Linked DNA regions of Homo sapiens: region 2 is reported to be linked to region 1. Evidence: microRNA targets listed by miRTarBase, many of them from high-throughput screens and not tested one by one. Region 1 holds a microRNA gene; the other region holds the end of a gene's coding sequence.
The links. Region 1 holds the annotated microRNA hsa-miR-6876-3p (AGCUGUCUGUGUUUUCCUUCUCAG, at 3,500-3,523, shown strand). A microRNA usually pairs through its seed, bases 2 to 8, with sites in the 3' UTR of a target mRNA and lowers its output. Matches are read on the target gene's strand: a 7mer-m8 pairs with bases 2 to 8, a 7mer-A1 pairs with bases 2 to 7 and ends in A, and an 8mer does both.

Region 1 (5,381 bases):
ATGCAAAAGAACATCCAAAACCTGCCCTGAGAGAGGTTTGCACTTTCTCTGGGAAAACAAGACATGCAGACATAAAATCGATTACAAAAGATAGTGTATAATGACATGCTTCCAGCCCTACCCCTAAGTATCCCAGCAGTGCAAAGTCAGACTGCAATCAACATGAGAGTGGAGTTGCCAAGAAAGCCATTTTCATAAAGGCGGGTCTGGAAAGTGATGATGGACGTGGGTGTTCTTTGGCAATTTAAATACTCAGCTCTAAGGCAGAGCCCTCCAGTAAGTGAGGATAAAATCTCCCTTGCTGCCATGTCATAAACTCTCAGGTCATTTTGTAGTTTTCCAGGTAAATCTCTCCATGCCCAAATCTCAGAGTGGAGGAGAAAAGTTTATAATGATGCCTTCAATTTGGCAGAACGAAGACACTACTAACCCTGAGGTTTCTCTCCCAGCGTGCTCTTCTGCAAATTCATTCAAAGCATTCCTGACAACCAGCTGGTTCGGCAGAAACTTAACTGCATGACCAAGATAGTAGAGAGCACTCTTTTTCGACAGTCAGGTAAGTCTCCTTCAAAACTTGCTGCATGAGGTTGCAGTGAGCTGAGATTGCACCATTGCACTCCAGCCTGGGTGACAGAACAAGACTCCATCTCAAAAAGCTAAAACAAGCTGCTGCATGCTGAGATGACAGCCCCATTTCTGCAGCTAACACTTGGGTTTTGTTGTTTGTTTGTTTTTTCTTGTTTTTTTTTTTTTTTTTTTTTTTTTGAGACGGAGTCTCATTCTGTCACCCAGGCTGGAGTGCAGTGGCGCAATCTCGGCTCACTGCAACCTCGGCCTCCCAGGTTCAAGCAATTCTCCTGCCTCAGCCTCCCAAGTAGCTGGGACTACAAGGACCTGCCACCAAGCCCAGCTAATTTTTTTTTATTTTTATTTTTAGTAAAGACGGGGTTTCACCACGTTAGCCAGGATGGTCTTGATCTCCTGACCTCGTGATCCACCCGCCTCGGCCTCCCAAAGTGTTGGGATTACAGGCGTGAGCCACCGCGTCCGGCTTGTTTGTTTTTTAAGACGGAATCTCACTCCCTCACCTAGGCTGGAGTTCTGTGGCACTGTCTCTGCTCCCTCTAACCTCTGCTTCCCAGGTTCAAGTGATTCTCCTGCCTCAGCCCCCTGAGTAGCTGGGATTACAGGTGTACATCACCACACCCAGCTAATTTTTTTTTTTTTTTGTATTTTTGGGAGAGGGGGGGTTTCACAATGTTGGCCAGGCTGGCCTCAAACTCCTGACCTCAAGTGATCTGCCCAACTTGGCCTCCCAAAGTACTGGGATTACAGGCATAATTACCGTGCCCAGTCAGCACTTGACTTTTCTTTTTTAAAAATGTCATTAATATTCTTGCCAGTTGTTTGTTGGCAACATTAATATTGTTGCCAGTTGTATGTAAGGACCTCCTGGGAGAGCGGTTTTAAGGAGAATCTAAAGTCAGCTCGGTATTTCCAACAGTTCCTAAAAGAGCAAAATCATGTGTTCCTTAATCTTTAATTAGAACAATCTGCAAGTGGTTCATTAATTAGAGAATTTTGTCTTTAAAACAGGAACCTCAGGAAGTAACAAGCAAGTAGGAAAAGATGACCCTTTTAAAAGAAATTATTCTTCTTTAGTCTATACTTATTGCATGACCTTAAAAACCAGGGGACAGGGAAACAGCAATGTGTTGGATCCCACAGGAGAGCTGGTTACATGCATCCCTTCTCAACCCCACGTTCAGTGATATCACATTAGTAGCTGGAAATTGACCATGGTGGAAGTCTTTACACCAGGGTAACTGGCAAACATGATAAAGCAAGCGTTTTTTTGTTTTGTTTTGTTTTGAGATGGAGTCTCACTCTTTCGCCCAGGCTGGAATGCAGCAGCATGAACTTGGCTCACTGCAACCTCCACCTCCCAGGTTCAAGCAATTCTCCTGCCTCAGCCTCCCAAGTAGCTGGGATTACAGGTGTGCACCACCATGCCCAGCTAATTTTTTTTGTAATCTTAGTAAAGCCAGGGTTTCACCATGTTGGCCAGCTTGTCTCAAGCTCCTGACCTCAGGTGATCCACCCACCTTGGCCTCCCAGAGTGCTGGGATTATAGGCATGAGCCACTGCACCTGGCCAAGCTGTTTTCTTTAGGGGGTAGGCTGGCAGAAGCCAGATTACTAGTATTCTGCTGGGAGAGGAGTGGGGCATGGAGGGGAAAAACTCTTACACTGATAAAATACTTTTCATTTTGTAAGTAGAGTCTAGCAAATAGCCACCAAGTGTTTCTGTCCCAAAGCTGATATAAACAGGAGGTCCAGCACCTGGGCCTTCCCAATAAACTCAAGACTTGCTAGAGTGAGGCAGCCACGGAGACTTCTTCTGGGGCTAACTACCTGGTCAGGGGCTCCCAGAGTGTAACCTCATTTTATGTATGTATATTGCCTGGAGATCTGAAGACCAGCAGGACTCCTCAACGTTAAACAAGTTGAGTGGATTGTTGGTGGGAGAGCCTTCCTGGCTTTGCCCCTGGCTAGTTATGTAACTGGACAAATGAGTGGCCTTCTCTAAGTCTCAGCCTCCAGTTCTGTGGAAGGAAGGACTTGAGCTAGATCGTATCAGTAGCCTCCTTGGGCTCTGATATTTTCTGACCCTATGAATTTGCACTTTGAAATTGCAAATGTTCCTAAGACACAATTGGAGGTAGAGGTAATGCCTGCAAAAGGTTAGTGAATGCTCATAAGTAGAAAACATTTATTACTAAAGCAAATTATTACTAAACATTTTAATATGCTTTGATCACTTTTTAAGGATACAGAAAAGGTAATTGAGATAGTAAAGATAAGGTGTTTGAGCAGAAGAGCAAGCATGCACTGGATAGTTCTACTTAGAGTGTGATCACGGTTAACAGTCATTTCTGTAGCATTCAGAGTACCTGAACTCATTATAAAATGTGTTACAATAGCAAAGATCTCAGAAGACATAATAGGTCATACCTTACTTTCTGAAATCCACACGCCTGCACAGACATGAGCAGAATGTCATTGACATGTACTAGGGAAGCTCAGTATTTATAGGAACTTTATTTATAGGAACTTCTTTCAGTAAATTTTCTCCATTAGGTGAAAAAATTTTTGAAAAAAAAAATGTATAACTTGCTTGGTTTTATTTGTTTCATATGACCCTCAATTTCGTGCATTAGGTTGGCGTTTTGAAAAGCTAGAGAAATTGTTAAATAATTTAAACATTTTGCTAAGTTCCCACCTTCACCTGTGAGAAGGGTCATTTTTTTTTTTTTTAATTCATTCATCTGCGCATTGAACAAGGGTAAAGTTCCGTGCCTAAAACCAGGTGTTCCTGGGTGGCCTGGAGGGGCTGCATCCCTGCAGGGCTGATTGCAGAGCTTAGAGCTACTGGTACTGGTCGAGGAAGAGTTGCAGGAAGGAGACAGGCAGTTCAGGAGGTGGCACTGCTGTGTGTGAGCTGTCTGTGTTTTCCTTCTCAGAGTGCAGAGAAGTGCTGCTGCCACTGCTGACAGACCAGCTCAGCGGCCAGTTAGATGACAACTCCAACAAGCCTGACCACGAGGCAAGCTCGCAGCTTCTGAGCAACATCCTGGAGGTGCTGGACAGGAAGGATGTGGTGAGTTGAGTCATCACTGATGCTGCACAGAGTTCACACTGTCCCCTTTGCACCAGACAGGAGTGACTCCGTGGCCTTCCTATTCTCAGGTAGTTTCCAGCTCCGGTATTAGGGCAGGCTGTGCCCATTTTAGAGATAATTAGGGAGGCCAGAGCCTCCAGTGCAAAGTCAGATTACTGCTGGGGCCTTCTGCAGGCTGATTTTCCTGGCTTGCCCAGTGTGCGCACTATTGAGATCCCTGTGACTTTTTTTTTTTGAGAGGGAGTCTCGCTCTGTCGCCCAGGCTGGAGTGCAGTGGCGCGATCTCGGCTCACTGCAAGCTCCGCCTCCCGGGTTCACGCCATTCTCCTGTCCCAGCCTCCCGAGTAGCTGGGACTACAGGCGCCCGCCACCACGCCCGGCTAATTTTTTTGTATTTTTAGTAGAGACGGGGTTTCACTGTGTTAGCCAGGATAGTCTCGATCTCCTGACCTCGTGATCCACCCATCTCGGCCTCCCAAAGTGGTGGGATTACAGGCATGAGCCATCGCGCCCAGCCCCTGTGACTATTCTTAAGAATCAAAGACCTGACTGGGCATGGTGGCTCAGGCCTGTAATCCCAGCACTTTGGGAGGCCAAGTCAGGAGGATCACTTGAGTCCAGGAGTTCAAGACTGACCAGCCTGGGCAACTTAGTAAGACTTTGTCTCTCTAAAAAATAATAATAATAATAAAAAATAAAGAATCAAAGGCCTTTCTGTTTTTATGCAGACACCTCTTCCTTCTTATCCTCTGATGCCTAACAACCTGATATTTCTGAGCTGCTGAGAAGTTCTCATTTCCATATCCTCTTGGACACTGATACTTTCTCTGGAACCTAATGGAAATTATGTTTTCTCATCTTGCGTTTTCTCTGTGACCTGGCCCCCATCCCTCTTGAAAACACAGGGCTAAGGCCGGGCGTGGTGGCTCACGCCTGTAACCCCAGCACTTTGGGAGGCCGAGGTGGATGGATCACGAGGTCAGGAGATCGAGACCATCCTGGCTAACACAGTGAAACCCTGTCTCTACTAAAAATACCAAAATTAGCTGGGCGTGGTGGCACGCGCCTATAGTCCCAGCTACTCGGGAGGCCGAGGCAGGAGAATCCCTTGAACCTGGGAGGCGGAGGTTGCAGTGAGCCAAGATTGTGCCACTGCACTCCAGCCTGGGTAATAGATTGAGACTCCAACTCCAAAAAAAAAAAAAAGAAAACATAGGGCTGAACCTGTCTGGATTCACCATGTCCTAGAAATAGTGCAGCCCACAGGCCTAGCAGAGCCCCCACACAGGAAGCTGGAGAACTTTGCAGAATGTGTTCACTCGAACAGTTGAGGGCTGAGAAAAAAAAAGCATCTTACCACAAATTATAGTTACCACGTCTATGGTGGTTTCATGGCACAGGTGTTCCCACAGAACAGGAAAACCACTCTTTGTCATCACCTAAAGTCTTTATCTTTCCAGTATCTTGGGATTCTGTCCTACCAAAGGATATGAATACTACACCTTTTCCCATAGCTAAACCGTTAGTTCACTTGTCAGGGTCCACCACCGTTTGACTACAGCCCACCTTTTCTCCTGCTCATGGTTTGCACTGGGATGTCTACATTTCTGTGAATCCACATTGCAGCCTCAGAAGTATGTGAGGGTACCATTGCCATCTCTAGCTGCTCCGCCAATCTCTGTCCCTCCACTTCCCTAAGC
Region 2 (5,381 bases), not on the chromosome of region 1:
CCTTCAGAGAAAAGTCAACTGTCATCATACATTACAGGACTCACACAGGAGAAAAACCTTATGAATGTAATGAATGTGGAAAAGCCTTCACTCAGAAGTCCAACCTCATTGTCCATCAGAAAACCCACACTGGAGAGAAAACCTATGAATGCACTAAATGTGGAGAATCTTTCATACAGAAGCTTGATCTAATTATACATCATAGTACCCATACAGGAAAGAAACCCCATGAATGTAATGAGTGTAAGAAAACTTTCAGTGATAAGTCAACTCTCATTATACACCAGAGAACTCATACGGGAGAGAAACCTCATAAATGTACTGAATGTGGGAAGTCTTTCAATGAGAAGTCAACCCTCATTGTGCATCAAAGAACTCATACAGGAGAGAAACCCTATGAATGTGATGTGTGTGGAAAAACCTTCACGCAAAAGTCAAACCTTGGTGTACATCAGAGAACTCATTCAGGAGAGAAACCCTTTGAATGTAATGAATGTGAGAAAGCCTTCTCTCAGAAGTCCTACCTCATGCTGCATCAGAGAGGTCATACAGGAGAGAAACCTTACGAGTGCAATGAATGTGAAAAAGCATTTTCACAGAAATCATATCTCATTATACATCAAAGAACTCATACAGAAGAAAAACCCTATAAATGTAATGAATGTGGCAAAGCCTTCAGAGAAAAGTCAAAGCTCATTATACATCAGAGAATTCATACAGGAGAGAAACCTTATGAATGTCCTGTGTGTTGGAAAGCTTTTAGCCAGAAGTCACAGCTCATAATACATCAGAGAACGCACACGGGAGAGAAACCCTATGCATGCACTGAGTGTGGCAAAGCCTTCCGAGAAAAGTCAACATTCACTGTACATCAAAGAACTCATACTGGAGAGAAACCCTATAAATGTACAGAATGTGGGAAAGCCTTTACCCAAAAATCAAACCTTATTGTACATCAGCGAACCCATGCAGGAAAGAAAGCCCATGGAAGAGGCCACACTCGGAAGTCAAAGTTCATGGCACATTAGAGAGCTAATCAGCAGTATCTATTATGGACACTGAAAGAAAGTTGTGTCAATTTTACTCACATTTTAAAAGTATATTTTGACTTGTGGTTTAAATATGGGAGTAAATTCAGCCTTTCTTCTTTTCATCTCAGTCATAACCCAAAAGCTACGGGAGAAAAAGCAGAAGTGTAATCTCTGTATCTGACAAAATTAGGAGACAGCTGCAACCCTAATGAGAGGGCTGCCACAGGCAGAGGAAATGAAGCACTGGTGCAGGAGATTTCAGAGTGAGAGTGCTCAAGGCTGCAGGTGCAAGACAGCACTGGTAAGGACTCTTAGCTGAGGTTCGGGATATACCCCGAGGCGCGGAACCATAGATATAACAGTGGTAACAGTGCGTGGGCAGGTAGGAGGTAGGATGTTTCCTAGACCATTTGGGGTCTGAGGAGAAACAGGCTGGGGCCTCGAGAAGGAGTCACTCAGACAAGCCATATTTTTAGAAAGTAGTCTACTGATGGGAGCAACAGTTATGGCATGCTGGGGGAAGAGAAGGGACTTTTCCTTGTGAAGAGCCCTACAGCTGCCCCTATTTACTGACTTGGGAGAAGTAAAGTCAGAAAGAACGAACAGCTGTGGGGGGAAAAAATTCTCAGTTGTCAAAAAAAAAAAAAACTGATCTGCTTAGAATGTGGCCCTGGTTTCTTTTCCCACATGAACCTCCAGCAAATAGCAAGTCCAGGAAAAACTCTTCTCATTCAAAGAGGAATTATTCAAAAGTAATCAAAACCACAAATGCATTTGGTTTTTGGGCCAGCAATTCCACTTCTAGGAATGTACATACTCACACATGTACAAAATGATGAACATACAGTATTCATTAATGCAGCGTTTGTGAAAACAAAAGATTGGAAGCTGTTTAAATGACACCATATCAGGGTTCTGGTTCCCTAAATTGTGGTATATTCATACAGCCTACTCCTGGGTAGACAACAATGAATAAATAAGGAGAACTTGGAAACCATTTATGTAGTGATGTGGGATAACCTTCAGTTTATGTTATTAGGTAGGAAAAATAAGGTTGAGGACAGTGACTGCCATTTGTATATAAAAAGGAGAAAAATGGTAAGTACATAATTGTGAATTCATAAGTTATCTCTGGAAAGAGACATGAGAACCTGGTAACCCTGATTACCTTGGGAGGGGAAGGGGCAGTGGTGGCTGGGGGGATGGAATTGAGAGGGAGACAACTGTATCCTTTCATAGCTTTTGAAAATGTGGGTGTACTATGTACTATGTGGATGTACTACCTTTTCAAAAATAAAACATTTAAAAAGCTATTTTGTTTTACTGTTATAGTAAAGTCACAGTCTAGGTACAGGATTTTATAACATTTAATATAGATATGCTCAATGTAGAGTTTATTTTTGGTGAATAAATTGAAGAACCAAGCAGATAGAACAACAGTTATTCAATCAATTCCAGAGGCACATAGGCATTATTTTCCTGAGGTTGCCAAATGAAGTGATTCTCCGGTCAGCTGGGACCACATTAGGTAACTAAAATAATTGAGACTGGAACATGCATAGTGACATCTGTGAAAAGATCCTGTACTAAAGCCCACCGAGGACTTTCCATATCTTAACGAAATTATTTTTATTACATCATTCATACAAACGCTTTTTACAAGTGCTGCAAAACACGAATCCATAGAGAGGTTGAATAACTTGCTTCTCTAAGGTTGCTCTAGTGCTGGCGATACATATTTTCCAAGGTGATAGACAGATTGAGAGTGATGGTCTGAATGGACATAGTCAAAGCCCACATAACAGGACATTTGCTTCAGAACGAGAGGTCCTGCTTGTGAATTACTGTATTTGTGGCCCTCATGCTTCTGTGGCTTTTCACTGGGGCCATCTCTTTGCTGGAACTGGACAACTTAAGCTGTGAAAAACTAGGGATGGGCAATGTTTGGATTTATCAAAATGGGTGGGTGAGTTAGACCTGAGACCCTGCCTGTGCCCTTTCGGGCCTTCTTTTTACCCTGAGTAATCCTGCAAGGAAACAAGCCGTGGGCTCACTTTATGAACTATTTAAGGTAAACCTATCACATTCAGTGCCTTTCCAGGGAGAGGAAACGTGGGGCAGACTGGCTTGCTCCTGGTGCAGTCTCCTTGAAAGATGCCCAAGGGCACTGGAAATAAAGCTATTTTTCCTTTCTACTTATAGAGAATCTTGCTAGGGTTTCAGGTCCATTGAAGGCCATCCTATAGTGGGGTGGGGGTGAGGGTCAGATCTCACCATTTCAGGTAGATCTTGGACTCCTGCTTCCTGGGACACAAATGGCAAGCTGATGGCCCACATGTGGGTGAATGGAGGTGAGTGAAGCACAGACAGGGGAATGGATGGAGATGAACATCAGCATGTGAATAAAAGGATTGGGATTGGAGGAAGAGAGAGGAGGGCAATGAAGGGCTAAGTGGGGAGTGAATGGAGTAAAGAGGGGCAGAAGGGTGGTGAACAGGGAAGAGTAGGGCGAAATGGGGGAAATATCCAGTGTTGTGAGTTACTGGAGAAGAAACAGTTGAGTGTAAGTAAACATGAGTAGTGTTGGGGAGAGAAGGAGGGAGTAGACTGGCAGTGAGTGGGTGCAGAGTGGAGGAAATTGGGAGTGATATGAGGCACAGTGTGAATGACAGTGGTTAATGGGGTTGGGTGAAGAGCAGTGCAGGAAAGTGGCAAAGCATGGCATGACGCTAATGAATGAAGAGGGGAAGAATGCCGGGCAGTCAAGGTGGGAAGACTGTGCTGGAATGGGAGGCACTCTGTGAGGTGAGTGATGGGGATCTGTGGTGTCAGAGGTTATAGGTTCTTGGGGTCTCAGTGATGCATGACCTTGCGTTGGTGGTGATGGGGAGTTGGGTGGAGGTGGGAGGTGATCCCTGGGGTTTCTGCACAAAGAGGAGCTGCGCTGAAGACCCTGTAGTGACCACAGGTGTATGGGATGGGATCAGCCTGTGTTCTAGACAGTGCTCAATGAATGTCACTTCTGTGTTCCATTCCTGATGTGGTTTGGATCTGTGTCCCCATCCAAATCTCATGTTGAATTGTAATCCCGTGTTGGAGGAGGGGTCTGATGGGAGGTGATTGGATCTTGGGGGTGGAGTTCTCATGTATGGTTTAGCACCATCCCGCCTTGGTACCATATAGTTAGTGACTTCTGGTGAGATCTGGTCGTGTAAACGTGTGTAGCACCTTCTTCCTTTCTTCCTCCTGCTCCTGCCATGTAAGATGCCTGTTCCCTCTTTGCCTTCTGCCATGAGTAAAAGCTCCCTCAGGCCTCCCTGGAAGCAGATGCTTCCATGCTTCCTGTACAGCCTGCAGAACAGTAAGCCAACTTAACCTTTTTTCTTTATAAATTACCCAGTCTCAGGTATTTTAGCAGTATGAGAACAGACTAATACAATCTCCTTGCCATTGTTACTTATATATACTCAGAGGGGGAGAGGGCCCACTGCAAGAGGTGTCCCTGACACCGCCCCCAAATCAGCTCTGTTGTGCCCCCTTGGCCAGCCCTAACTCCCACCCCCACATCTATTTATGCCAGTTACTTAATTTGTCTTACTGCTTTAGCTAAAATGTCTAAAATAAAATTAATTATGGTCCTTCTTCACCTTGTTCTTAGGGCTCCCGAAACTATCCTGGATTCCTAAGATCAGCCCTGTGTCCCTTGATTGACCCTATAACCACCCAGATCAATACTGGGCCCCCAATATTTTAGCCAATTATTTCATATTATTGTCCTATTTCTTTAGGTAAACTCCAAACTTTGAATTATGATCCCTTCTCACTTTATCCTTTGGGGTCTGTTAATGTGAGAAGTTCCCTTGATACAATGATAGTCTTCAATATGCGACCAGGCAAGCTACCCTAGAAGTCTCAGAATAGAAAGGCTCACAGACCAAATTAAAATGCTTTAGTCAGGCCGGATGTAGTGGCTCACGCCTGTAATCCTGGCACTTTGGGAGGCCAAGGCAGGTGGATTGCTTGAGGTCAGGAGCTCAAGACCAGCCTGGCCAACATGGTAAAACCCCGTCTCTACTAAAAATACAAAAGTTAGCTAGGTGTGGTGGCACATGCCTGTAGTCCCAGCTACTCAGGAGGCTGAGGCAGGAGAATTGCTTGAACCCAGGAGGTGGAGGTTGTAGTGAGCCGAGATTGCCCCCAGCCTGGGTGACACAGTGAGCCTCTGCCTCAAAAAAAATAAAATGAAATAAAATGGTTGAGTCACATGGCTTATTAAATCAATTTTTTTGAAAAATGCAAATATATATACATATCCATATATACACACATGTATATACATATGTATACATA

Region 2: the mRNA of ZNF182 is a reported target of hsa-miR-6876-3p. Seed matches in the 3' UTR shown: 7mer-m8 at 1,223-1,229 and 8mer at 1,322-1,329.

Annotation. Positions count from the first base shown.
Region 1 is chr8:25,341,952-25,347,332 of GRCh38, forward strand. MIR6876 (microRNA 6876) reads left to right here and starts at 3,451; the gene lies at 3,451-3,523. It overlaps DOCK5 (dedicator of cytokinesis 5), which reads left to right. Exons shown (of 52, transcript NM_024940.8): 25 at 450-556; 26 at 3,524-3,660. RefSeq lists enhancers at 3,400-3,459, 3,442-3,736.
Region 2 is chrX:47,971,814-47,977,194 of GRCh38, reverse strand. It overlaps ZNF182 (zinc finger protein 182), which reads left to right. Exons shown (of 6, transcript NM_001007088.2): 6 at 1-2,344. The coding sequence ends at 1,028. Among named protein-coding and RNA genes, the nearest start is that of ZNF182, 29 kb to the left of the region's middle.